Regions from separate parts of the Homo sapiens genome. Here region 1 is linked to region 2. The links come from fine-mapping of genetic effects on gene expression. A gene starts in region 2. The other region holds a variant in brackets. All regions are shown on one strand. Distances are between the middles of the regions.

Region 1 (5,382 bases), 38 kb after region 2:
TCACTCTCCTGTATAGAGTCATGTTATGCCAATATTACCTGCAAACTGCCAAATGGGCCAGGTAATAAAGACTAACAAATATAATGCTATTTATGAATTACCCTGAGGATCAGTTCAGATTAAAAAAGTGGAACAGTAAATCCCACAGAGCTGAACACTGGAGAAGAAAAGTTGTTAACTTGGTGGCCTCTGCTGCTACTGTGCCTTCTTGAGGGAAATCTTAACTGATGGAGAAGGGAGTGGAAGAAGGAACCTGAGAAGGTGAATAAGAAACCAGGCTAGTAGGCTGCAGCTGCCGTCTGCTTGCACCAGTGCTGCCTGAGAAGTTTAGAAAAGCCACCTTCTCAGCTACATCTGGAAGCAGCACGGTCTTCTTGAGAATTTCAGGTAGCCAAAGAACTCTGAACGAAGACTTAGAAGACCGGTTTCATGTCTATTAATAATAAAAATAACAGCTTTACCATCAATTGATCACTTAATTGTGCAACAGGACAAAAGCCTTTTGCAACATGATCTCATTTCATGTGTACAGCAACCCTGTAAAGTGAACATTTTTAGTAACTCTATTTTAGAGACAAGAAAACCAAGATTCCCAAAAGTATTAGTGATTTTCCCAAGTTCAGCCAGCTAAATAGCTTTGTATTAGGTGCAGAACTTAATAGCTATTATTTGGGGAAGGGGTGAGAAGAGTATGTTTATCACATGTGTTGTTTATACCTCCTTACACTCTCTGAAAATCCTTTTAATATTTAATGATAAAATCAGATGATGAATTATATCGAAATAGCAGTGAAGGTGGGGAAAAAGTATCAAAAGGGTAACAATTTGAAGTTTCTGTGAAAATGGAGAGGAAAAGACTTCTTGATGTGGAAGTTTGGGAAGTTCCACAAGCTGATTTCTTAGGCACTTGTAAGACTCAGATTTTATTCCCCTAGGTACATTTACAATTCAGTATCTTCTTTTCTTGGTTAAGGTCCTCACACCAGTCCCAGTAAGTAGAGGGTAGCTCTCTTTCACTTCAGCAATTTGTCCTATGATGTGGAAGGGCTTTGCTTATGGAGTCTTCTTAATGCTTCAGGGAAGAGAAGTAGCCACAAATGCTCTGAAGAGATAAAGCGGTTTTCCGCCTAAGTGTATTTGAGGCAGGATTTCTGCCCACAATTACGCTTCTCCCTTCCACTGCCTTCATTTCACTTTGATTAAAGGGATTGAAATAATCTGGGTCTTCACCAAGTCCCAGTTAAAAAAAGAAATTCATAGGTGGTGGTGGGTGGTGACTAGTGCTATAACTAAGTCTTTAAGTAAGTATCTTAAGCTACCTTTCCCAAAATGGATTCCAGGAAATAGTAGTCTCACAAGTTTCACTCCAAACTGAAGGCTCTTTGTTCAAATTCCTTTTGGAAATGCTGCAGTCTTTGCTGATGTCAACAAGAGGCTACTAGCACTTACAGCCAGACAATTCTTTGTTTTCTGCAATTATCCCCAAATATTGCACGTTATTTAGCATCCATGTTCTCTGGACTTTAAATGCAAGTAAAGGTTCTCATCATCATGATAATCAAAATTGACTTAATACATTTATAAGTGATTTATATGATTTGGCTCTGCCCCCCTACCCCCTCAAATCTCATCTTGAATTGTAGCTCCCACAATCCCCACATGTCGTGGGAGGAACCTGGTGGGAGGTAATTGAATCATGGGGGCGGGTTCTTCCCCATGCTGTTCTCATGATAGTGAATAAGTCTCATGAGATCTGATGGTTTTAAAAAAGGCAGTTCCCCTGCACAGGCTCTCCTGCCTGCTGCTATGTAAGATGTGCCTTTACTCCTCCTTCGCCTTCCACCATGATTGTGAGGCCTCCACAGCCATGTGGAACTGTGAGTTAATTAAAACGTTTTATAAAAAAGTAAATTACCCAGCCTTGGGTATGTCTTTATTAGCAGTGTGAAAACAGACTAATACTATGATCCTTGGAGGATGGTACCAAACCTCATTGAGAACTACTGTAGCTATCGCCTTATGCAAATTCCCAGAACACTTGTCATGTTGGTATATTAAAGACTCAGGGAAGAATCTGTTTTCACTATATTGTTTTGTTTTAACTTTTAATCTCCTAGGTATCAGTGCAGGTTTGTTACATAGGTATACTTATATCACAGGATTTTGTTGTACAGATTATTTAATCAGCCAGGTATTAAGACTGGTACCCACTAGTTGTTTCTACCATATTGTTATTCGATTCAGCATATCCTAAAAAATTATAGAGCCTCTTACCCCCTCTCTCTTGTTTTTCTTTAGGATACCAAGTGATATCCCATGAAATTCCCTTTGGAAAATACTACTTTAGCAAGAAGGATGAGGAAGGGGATATTAGAAAGAGCAGAGACATTAACGATTGCCTAATATCTGAAGCCCACTATTTACCCCATGAGACAGATATGGCCCACTTGGCCCTGAGGACTTTTCAAATTTTTGCTTTAGACATGATTACCATTCATGATCTTTCAAGCCGCTGGGACCTAATCATTTATTTCTCTTTGAGAGGTGTCTGGCTAGCTGGCTTGGATATATTAGTTATTGTATTTAATGTTGTTAGTAATTCATTATACAGTTTGAGCTGCTTGGTTTCATTTTATGAACATTTTATCATAAAACAACAAGAAATTCTTAGAAAAGATTTCTGCCATAAGAAAAAATAGACGTGAATAAGGCCCCCATATTCAACTTGCTTATATTTGGGTCATGTATAATTCTCATACACTAACTGTGGACCCTTTGACTTGCTTTTGTGTTTAGTTTAAAAGATTATACTAGATAAGCACACGTACATGGATGCCTAATTACGTAGTAGTCATTAAGGAAAGCAATGCATTTTTCTGTATTCTAAACTCATATTTTGCTAATGGGAGAAACTGGTCCAGAAAATGGTCAGCAGCAGAGATGTGATTTGGATCCAGAAATCCTGACCCCCGGCAAGAATCTTCATACTGCTTCATTTTGTTATCTCTTAATAGAGTAAGAACTACTGAGATGTGGAAAATGAAGATTTGGAATGAGAGGTGGATGAAGGGAAGAAACTGAACTTGAATAGGAGGGCCTTTTAACAGAAAGTTCTCAGAAAATCATTATTTAACCATTCCAGTGTTAAAAAAAAAA[A/G]AAAGTCCATCTTCACCCTCCCCAAAGAAACTCATTTCATGCTAAATATATAAACTTAACAGCTGCTTTGGTGAACCACCAGTGCCTGGCACCTCTATTATCAAGAAGCAGTGAGTCCTGATGGCAGGTTTGGGTTTCTTGGGGGCAGGTAATAACAGGTCAAGGCTTTGCTTTTTACCCAAATGCGGTGTAAAAGGAGTTTTGGGTTTCCTCAATTTCAGCTTGTCGTGGCCAGGTCTAGATAAGATTATATGGTCTTTTCTTAAAAGACCTCAGATATTTCTTTCATCCCATTCTCAGTCACAGTGTATTTTTTCTTCTGCTACTTGACTGATAAAGTTTTTTTAAATACTAGTCTCTCTCTTCTTCCTTGCTGCAGCTATAGAAATTGATTCAGAAGTGAAACAGTACTGTAAGGGTATTCTTTTGATAGTTCATTATTAAGAGGAATCTCTATATGTATTTTTATCATATTTCAGCTCCAAGCGGTAAAAGTAGCTTCATTACGAGCAGCTAAGTTCTAAATTACATATGTCAAAATAACAAAAACACTTAGTTTGCAAGGGGTTGAGGTATAAGGATTTGGAGGAATCAGTAGTGAGTTTTGGAGAAATTGGTACCTGCCCTATGTTTCAAAGCGGAAGTTCAAAACTCAAATGTCTGGTGGAATCTGGGCACCAAACTGTAATGAGTGAAATTGGCTAAGTATACAAAAAAAAAAAAAAAAAAAAAAAAAAAAAAAAAAAAAAAAAAAAACAGCTCATGCCTGATGATAATGGACAACTGACACACCCGGTAAGTGTGAGTCATGGCATAGCAAATACTAGTAACTGTGGCAAATTCTAGTGGGCAAGTGGGCATGCCCCATCTAAGAAGGGCAAACACTACTTTACCACAGCTGTGGAACAATATTGACTCTCTGTTGGCAGCCTTTCAAAGGAAACGAAAAATTCAAATTTTACACATTAGTAACCAATTCATAAAAACAATAAGTGGGTAAACATGTCAAATAGAATGGGCTGAGTCTCACTGGTTCTTAGGTTAAATAAGCTTAGTATTATCTCCACATCTCTCTGCCCTTCCAAACTGGAATCTTCCAATACAAGGCATCATTCTGATGCTTTGTCTCTGGAGTTGGTTTTCAGTGTATAGGTATCCCTACGTGTTTTTTAGCTTGTGAGTCCTAATACTTAAAGAGCCAGCAGGGGGAACCCACAGACTGTGTGACTCAAAACCAAAGGCATGGATTTTTAAAGTTTATACATGGAAAAAAAAAAAGCTATTTTGAGGACCAGCAACCAGCTGCCAGTGGTCTGGTCAGCAGTTTGAGTTGTGACTTTCACACCAACCTTGGTTTTTACTTGTCTAATAAAATATTTTCATACTAATAACTACTTACACAACTGGAAACACTGTATGCAAACTCTTCTCTGGAACTTCCATCAGGATATGGAATGTGGCTTAAATGTTGAAAGTAGAAATCACGGCCGGGCATGGTGGCTCACGCCTGTAATCCCAGCGCTTTGGGAGGCCAAGGCGGGCGGATCACGAGGTCAGGAAATCGAGGCCATCCTGGCTAACACGGTTAAACCCCATTTCTACTAAAAATACAAAAAAAAAAAAAAAAAATAGCCGGGCGTGGTGGCGGGGGCGCCTGTAGTCCCAGCTACTCGGGAGGCTGAGGCAGGGGAATGGCGGGAACCCGGGAGGCGGAGCTTGCAGTGAGCCTAGATCGCACCACTACACTCCAGCCTGGGAGACAGAGAGACTCCGTCTCAAAAAAAAAAAAAAATAAATAAAAATAAAAATAAAAAAGAAAAAAAGAAAGAAAGAAAGAAAGTAGAAATCATGCCCTTCTCTGGATCTGTCTGAATGCTGGTTCAGATAGGCGAGGGAGTGATGTGTCATGCCATATTCATTTATTTTGACATAAAATGGATTTATATCAACCAGCATTTTATTATAAAGATCTCACTATATGTACAGTGATGTATTAAATGTAAAATTGTATAATATTGATTCACCGCCTCCAAACATGTTTAGGGTAATTGTGAACGCTAACACACACGTACACACACACACACACACAGACACTCACACAGAGGGAGAGAGAAAGAGAGAGAGATAAATTGCTAGATAAGTGCAATCTGTCTTGTGGAGAAGGCTTGGGCAGAATTTACATCAGTCAGTGCTTTTTAACCTTTATCTTATAATGGCACATGTGGG
Region 2 (5,382 bases):
GAAACCCCATCTTCATAAAAAAAATAATAATTAGCTGGGGAGGTCGTGGTGCAGCACCCATAGTCCAAGACACTCCAGAGGCTGAGGTGGCAGGATCGCTTGAGCCTGGGAGTCAGAGGTTTCAGTAAGCAGAGATGATGCCCCTGCATTACAGCCTGGGCAATAGAGCCAGACCCTGTCTCAAAAAATAAAAAAAAAAAAAAAATAAGGGGGGTATGCTTCAACTGACACCATTAAGAACATAGAATGATAACACTCAGAATGGGAGGAAATATTTGTAAATCATATATCTAATAAGGGACTTGTATTCAGAATATATAAAGAATTCTTGCAACTCAATAATGAAAAATACAACTAAATTTTTGTAAACAGGCAAATGATCTGAATAGACACTTCTCCAAAAACGTGAATAACTAATAAGTATATGAAAATACTTGCTACATTAGTCAGTAGAATCAAATCACAATAGAATCAAAATCACACTGAGATACCACTTTACAACCACTAGGATGGCTATAATAAAAAAGACAATAACAAGTGTTAGTGAGTATGTACAGAAATTGGAACCCTCATACATTATTGATGGGAAGGTAACATGCAGATGCCTGGAAAACAGTTTGGCAGTTTCTTAAAATGTTCAATATAAAGCTACCACATAATCCAGCAATTCCACTCCTAGATATATACCCGAGGAAAATAAAAGCATATGTTCATATGAAAACTGATACATCAATGTTCATAGCAGCATTATTCATAGAAGCAAAAGAAAGTGGAAATAACACAAATCCTACCATCGATGAATGGATAGGTATGCTATATCTCTACAACGGAATAGTATTTGGCAATTAATAAGAATGATGCACTGATAAAAGCTGCAGTATGGATTAACTTCAAAAACGTTAATCTACGAGAAAGAAGCCAGTTACAACAGACCACATGTTGTATGATTCTATTTATTCGAATGGTCTTGAATAGGCAAATCTATAGAGACAATAAAGAGATTACTGGTAGGAAGTGGGGAGGATGGGAAGTGACTGCCTAAGAGGTTTCTATTTGGGGTGATGAAAGTGTTCTAAAATTAGATTATGATGATAGTTACAAAACTCTGTAAATACACTAAAAAAAATCCAACTTTACACGTCAAATAGGTGAATTTTACAGTATATAGATTATATCTCAATAAAGCTGCTTAAAAAAGGGAACGAGGAGGATGCAGTAACACACGGTATTTCCCGGTGCCTTTGAAGACTGAATAGTAATGATCAGATCTTTTGTCACTTTGGAAAACTGTTTCTGTGTTTAAATCCAACACTAAACAAGACATGAAAATAAAATATCATTGAAGGAACTGGGGTCCTGGAGATAGCAGCAAAATAGTATGTGCATTTTAAGGAAAATACATGTATTAAAATAGGTCCACGGAATACAGGTGGTGTAAAGGCTTTGGCAAACAATGGATAAATATTTCTCAACGGAACTAAAGGGCTTAATGAAAGCTGTTGAAAAGCAACAGCAGCAGCAGCAGCAGCAGCTTTTCCAAGTGCCTATGGCTCTCAGTATCTCAAACTGATAGATTTTAGGATCTGCTACTCCTACAATTAACAAGCATCTCAAAGCATGATAAGTAACGGGCAGAGAGAGTGAGGTAATAAGACTCAAGGACCAGCTCCTTACACGTGGGATAGCTGTCTTGCACTCTATACTGCTGCTTTTTTTGGGAAAGCCTTCGTTTCCATTGGCTGGGTTCGGAGACCCAAGCACTGCAGCGCTAGCCTAGCAGCCCTGAATTACTCGGCGGTTCCCAGGCCTGCAGGGGAGCAAGGAGGGTGTTCCGGAACCATAGGGGTCACAGGTCGCAGGTCCCTGGCGCGCAGGAGCAGCAGAGAAATCTGTGGGGCGCCGAAACCAACCCCACTCACCCCAGGCGGGGGACTCTGCCCCGCAGTCCCGGTTTCGCGCTGAGCACGCCACGCAGCGAACCTCCCTAGGACTCAGGCCGCAGGGCCGCCAACGTCCCCCGGGGCCTCTGCGCCGCGGGTGGAGGGGTGCAGGCAGCCAGCCTGGCTCTCCCTTGACGCCTCTTGGCGCGGTCCTACCTTCCTCCGCCAACACTTCCAGGAGATCCGGGTCGCCCATCTTCGCCAGCTCGTTAATGGCACTGGTGCCTGAGAGGCAGCAGGAGAGGGGCAGCTGAGACAGACGTGGAGATCTGAGGCAGGTGCTGAATCTGACTGTGGGCCGCCGGAGTTGCTGCTGCTGGACTTCTAAGGGCCTGCTCTTCCTTCTGCAGGCCTCCTTCTCCTCCTCCTCGGACTCCACCGTCTCTGGGCGCCACAGCCAGCCGGCCTTCCTCTCCGGCGGGTACTTCCACTCGACCCGGTCCCCCACAACCTGCTTCGCGCGCTTGGCCCTGCGCTTCCCCACCCTCAGCCGGTAGCGCTCCTGGGCGCTCTCCCAGTACTTCTCCAGGCACCTGTCCCTGTGCCTGCTCGGCAGCTGATCCCGCAGCCGCCACTCCTCCCGGTGCTCGCCAGGATCCTTTCCACTCCTGCCCTCTGGCAGCTTTCCTTTCCCCTTCGCTGCGTCCCTGTTTCCACGCCTCTTTCCCCGCCTCCAGACCGCAAGACCGGCCGGCGCCCCACCCTCGGAGACCGCCATCTCCCCGCCCCCCGGCCCGGCTGGCTCCACGCTGGCCCCCTCCTCTCCGCTCAAGCCGTCCCCAGGTCCCTGCTCTGCCGCCTCCCGCACCTCCTCCGGACATGCAGCCTCCCGTCCCTCCTCGGGACCCGCCGCCCCCCGGCCCTGTTGGCCGGCCTGCTCCATTCTGTACAGGCTTCGCACGTCCTTTTCCACTGGGTCCACCCACGACCAGGAATCCTGGTTCCCCAGGGCTGCCGCTTCCCTCCTGTCGGAATCCTCCTCCTCCGATCCCCAAAGGGGGTCCCGATGCTCCCTCAGCCGGTTGGCCGGGTCTTCATCGATCCGCTCATGCGTGCCACTCGGAGAGAACCCCTCTCCCAGTTGGGAGTTACTTTTGGTCTCGTGGGGAAAAGTCCCTCTCCCTTAAAGGAACCCCTCCCTTTTAAGGCCGGCTCATGGCCCGAGACTCCAAGGTGCCAGCAGCCCCTTCCCCATAGCGTCTGGAGCGGGAGTATTGACTTTTCTCCTGGCCCTGCCTGCTTCCTGGGTTCCCAGCAGGATCTCTGCCCTCTACAGGTGGGGGAAGGTCATCCCTTGTGGCCTGAGTTCCAAGTCAGCCTCTGCCCCTTAAGAGTTGGATAGTGTGGGGCAAGTTTCTCTAAGTTTCAGTTTCCACATATTTAAAGGAGAATGATAATAGTACCCACCTCCTAGGCTGTTGAGAGAAGCACGGTGCACAGTCCTTGCCACAGAATGTGTTAAACATTTAGCTGCTATTAAGATTAACCCATATTATAGTCCAGCTGGGATGACGCCTGTCATCATCTCAGCTGGACGATATCGCTTGAAAGCTCAGGAGTTCAAGACTAGCCTGGGCAACATAGGGATACCCCTGTCTCTACAAAAAATTGGAAAATAGCCAGTCATGGTGGCAGGCACCTGTGGTCCCAGCTACTCGGGAGGCTGAGGTGGGAAGATCGCTTGAGCCCAGAAGATTGAGACTACATAGAGCCACAATCATCCCGCTGCACTCCAGCCTAAGTGATGGAGAGCAAGACCCTGTCTCAAAAGAAAGTAAAGAAAAGAAAAAAAGAAGAGGGAGGAAGGAAGAAGAGAAAAAAAAAAGAAAAGAAAATTAACTCATATTACATTGATCCCTACTCCATTTCAAAGGGTTACTTTGTTTCCCCCCTCCACTTCCTGCCCACCCCAACCAGAACTTTAACCTCAAGCAGAATGGGTCGTTCTACTCCTCACAGGCCCCTCTGCATTGGTTCTGTGTTTTTGAGACCCGATCAACTGCCAACTACACAATAATTGAGAGACTAGATTCACTGTCTAATGGCGGGGAAATAAGACTGATGATGAACTAACAGTGAGGTAGAGGTCTCAGCTGAGAGCCTTGAGTGATGAGGAGGGAGTGACTGTATTAGTCTGTTCTTATGCTGCTAATAAAGACATACTTGAGACTGGGTAATTTATAAATGAAAGAGGTTTAATGGACTCCCAGTTCCACATGGCTGGGGAGGCCTCACAATCATGGCAGAAGGCAAAGGAAAAGCAAAGGTGCGTCTTACATGGGGGGAGGGCAAGAGCTTGTGCAGGGGAACTCCGATTTATAAAACCATCAGATCTCCTGAAACTTATTCACTATCACTAGAATAGCATGGGGGAAACCACCCCCATTATTATCTCCACCTGGCCCTGCTCTTGACACGTGGGGATTATTACAATTCAGGGTGAGAATTATTACAATTCCCTGGGCATGCCACGCAGCGAACCATATCAGTGACTCTGAGTTTAGGATAAGGATGGGGTGATTTGAAAGTTAGGATGAGGTGACCAAAGAAGTCTTGACCTTTCTTCATTTTTCTGCTACTGCATTCCCCTCCCCACCCACCATTCTATTGATATTTCAGAACTGAGAATCACCTTTTGCAGATAAGGAAACAGGCCTAGAGAGAAGTGGTTTGGTAAAGGTTATGATTAACCACGGAACTGGAAATCAGTTTTGCCCCTATACCTTACTTTCCTGCCTATATGTCTACGAATACATGAGCTCTAGTCAAGTGATTTAAGACTATAGGTAGGCAATTCCCTACTTGATGTAATTTGGAATTGTGTTTGAAAGGTGACTATACATAAGCATAGATTTACACATTAAATTATAATGACTAATTGTGATAGAAGTGTTTGGTTATCATCTCTTGATTATTAATCCTTGTTTGGGCTTCTAAGAAAATTTCTACAATATGAATGTTTTCTAATATTTTTCCTGAAATCAGGTATTTTTCTAGATGCTGTGGACATTGTGAGTTAAGAGCTGGGGAGAATCTTTGCTTTATATAGATGAAGTTAAAATAAAGAAAATAAAATTATTTTTCTAGTATTTTATATAATTCCTTGTTTCATGTTTTTTTATTCTGTTCTGTATTTGAAATGATGTGTATGAGAAGACATTATATGTTGATGATTTTGCTCCATACTAAATGAAACATTTTCAGGCTGAATTTGCTTAGATTGTTATCAACATGCTTTAAACTTTGTTAGCAAGAGTTGAAAACCAGCTGTGTCCTTCTAATAAAGGTCTGGGTTGTGACCATAACTCTTTAGATCTTGAGAGAAATATTCTCTATATTCATATCATTGACATATTTTATATTGCTTATACATTTATACTTTTAGGATATGCCCATTTTCTCCTCCATCACTATACTCTGCCTCGTTAGATACAATCTTTAA

Evidence for each region. PIP is the estimated chance that this variant, and not a neighbour inherited with it, causes the effect. A credible set is the group of variants that fine-mapping cannot tell apart.
Region 1: its variant is the best candidate, but not a certain one, in a credible set for the expression of ANO5 in blood mononuclear cells (TOPMed, PIP 0.50).

Annotation. Positions count from the first base shown.
Region 1 is chr11:22,151,916-22,157,297 of GRCh38, reverse strand. The region is part of intron 1 of LOC124902645 (a long non-coding RNA gene); the gene reads left to right. Among named protein-coding and RNA genes, the nearest start is that of ANO5, 38 kb to the left of the region's middle. The variant A/G (reference allele first, on the strand shown) is at 3,157.
Region 2 is chr11:22,190,247-22,195,628 of GRCh38, reverse strand. ANO5 (anoctamin 5) reads right to left here and starts at 2,544. Exons shown (of 22, transcript NM_213599.3): 1 at 2,097-2,544. The coding sequence starts at 2,136. RefSeq lists enhancers at 1,727-1,916, 2,167-2,256, 2,907-2,976, 3,007-3,066, 3,297-3,386 and a silencer at 2,677-2,726.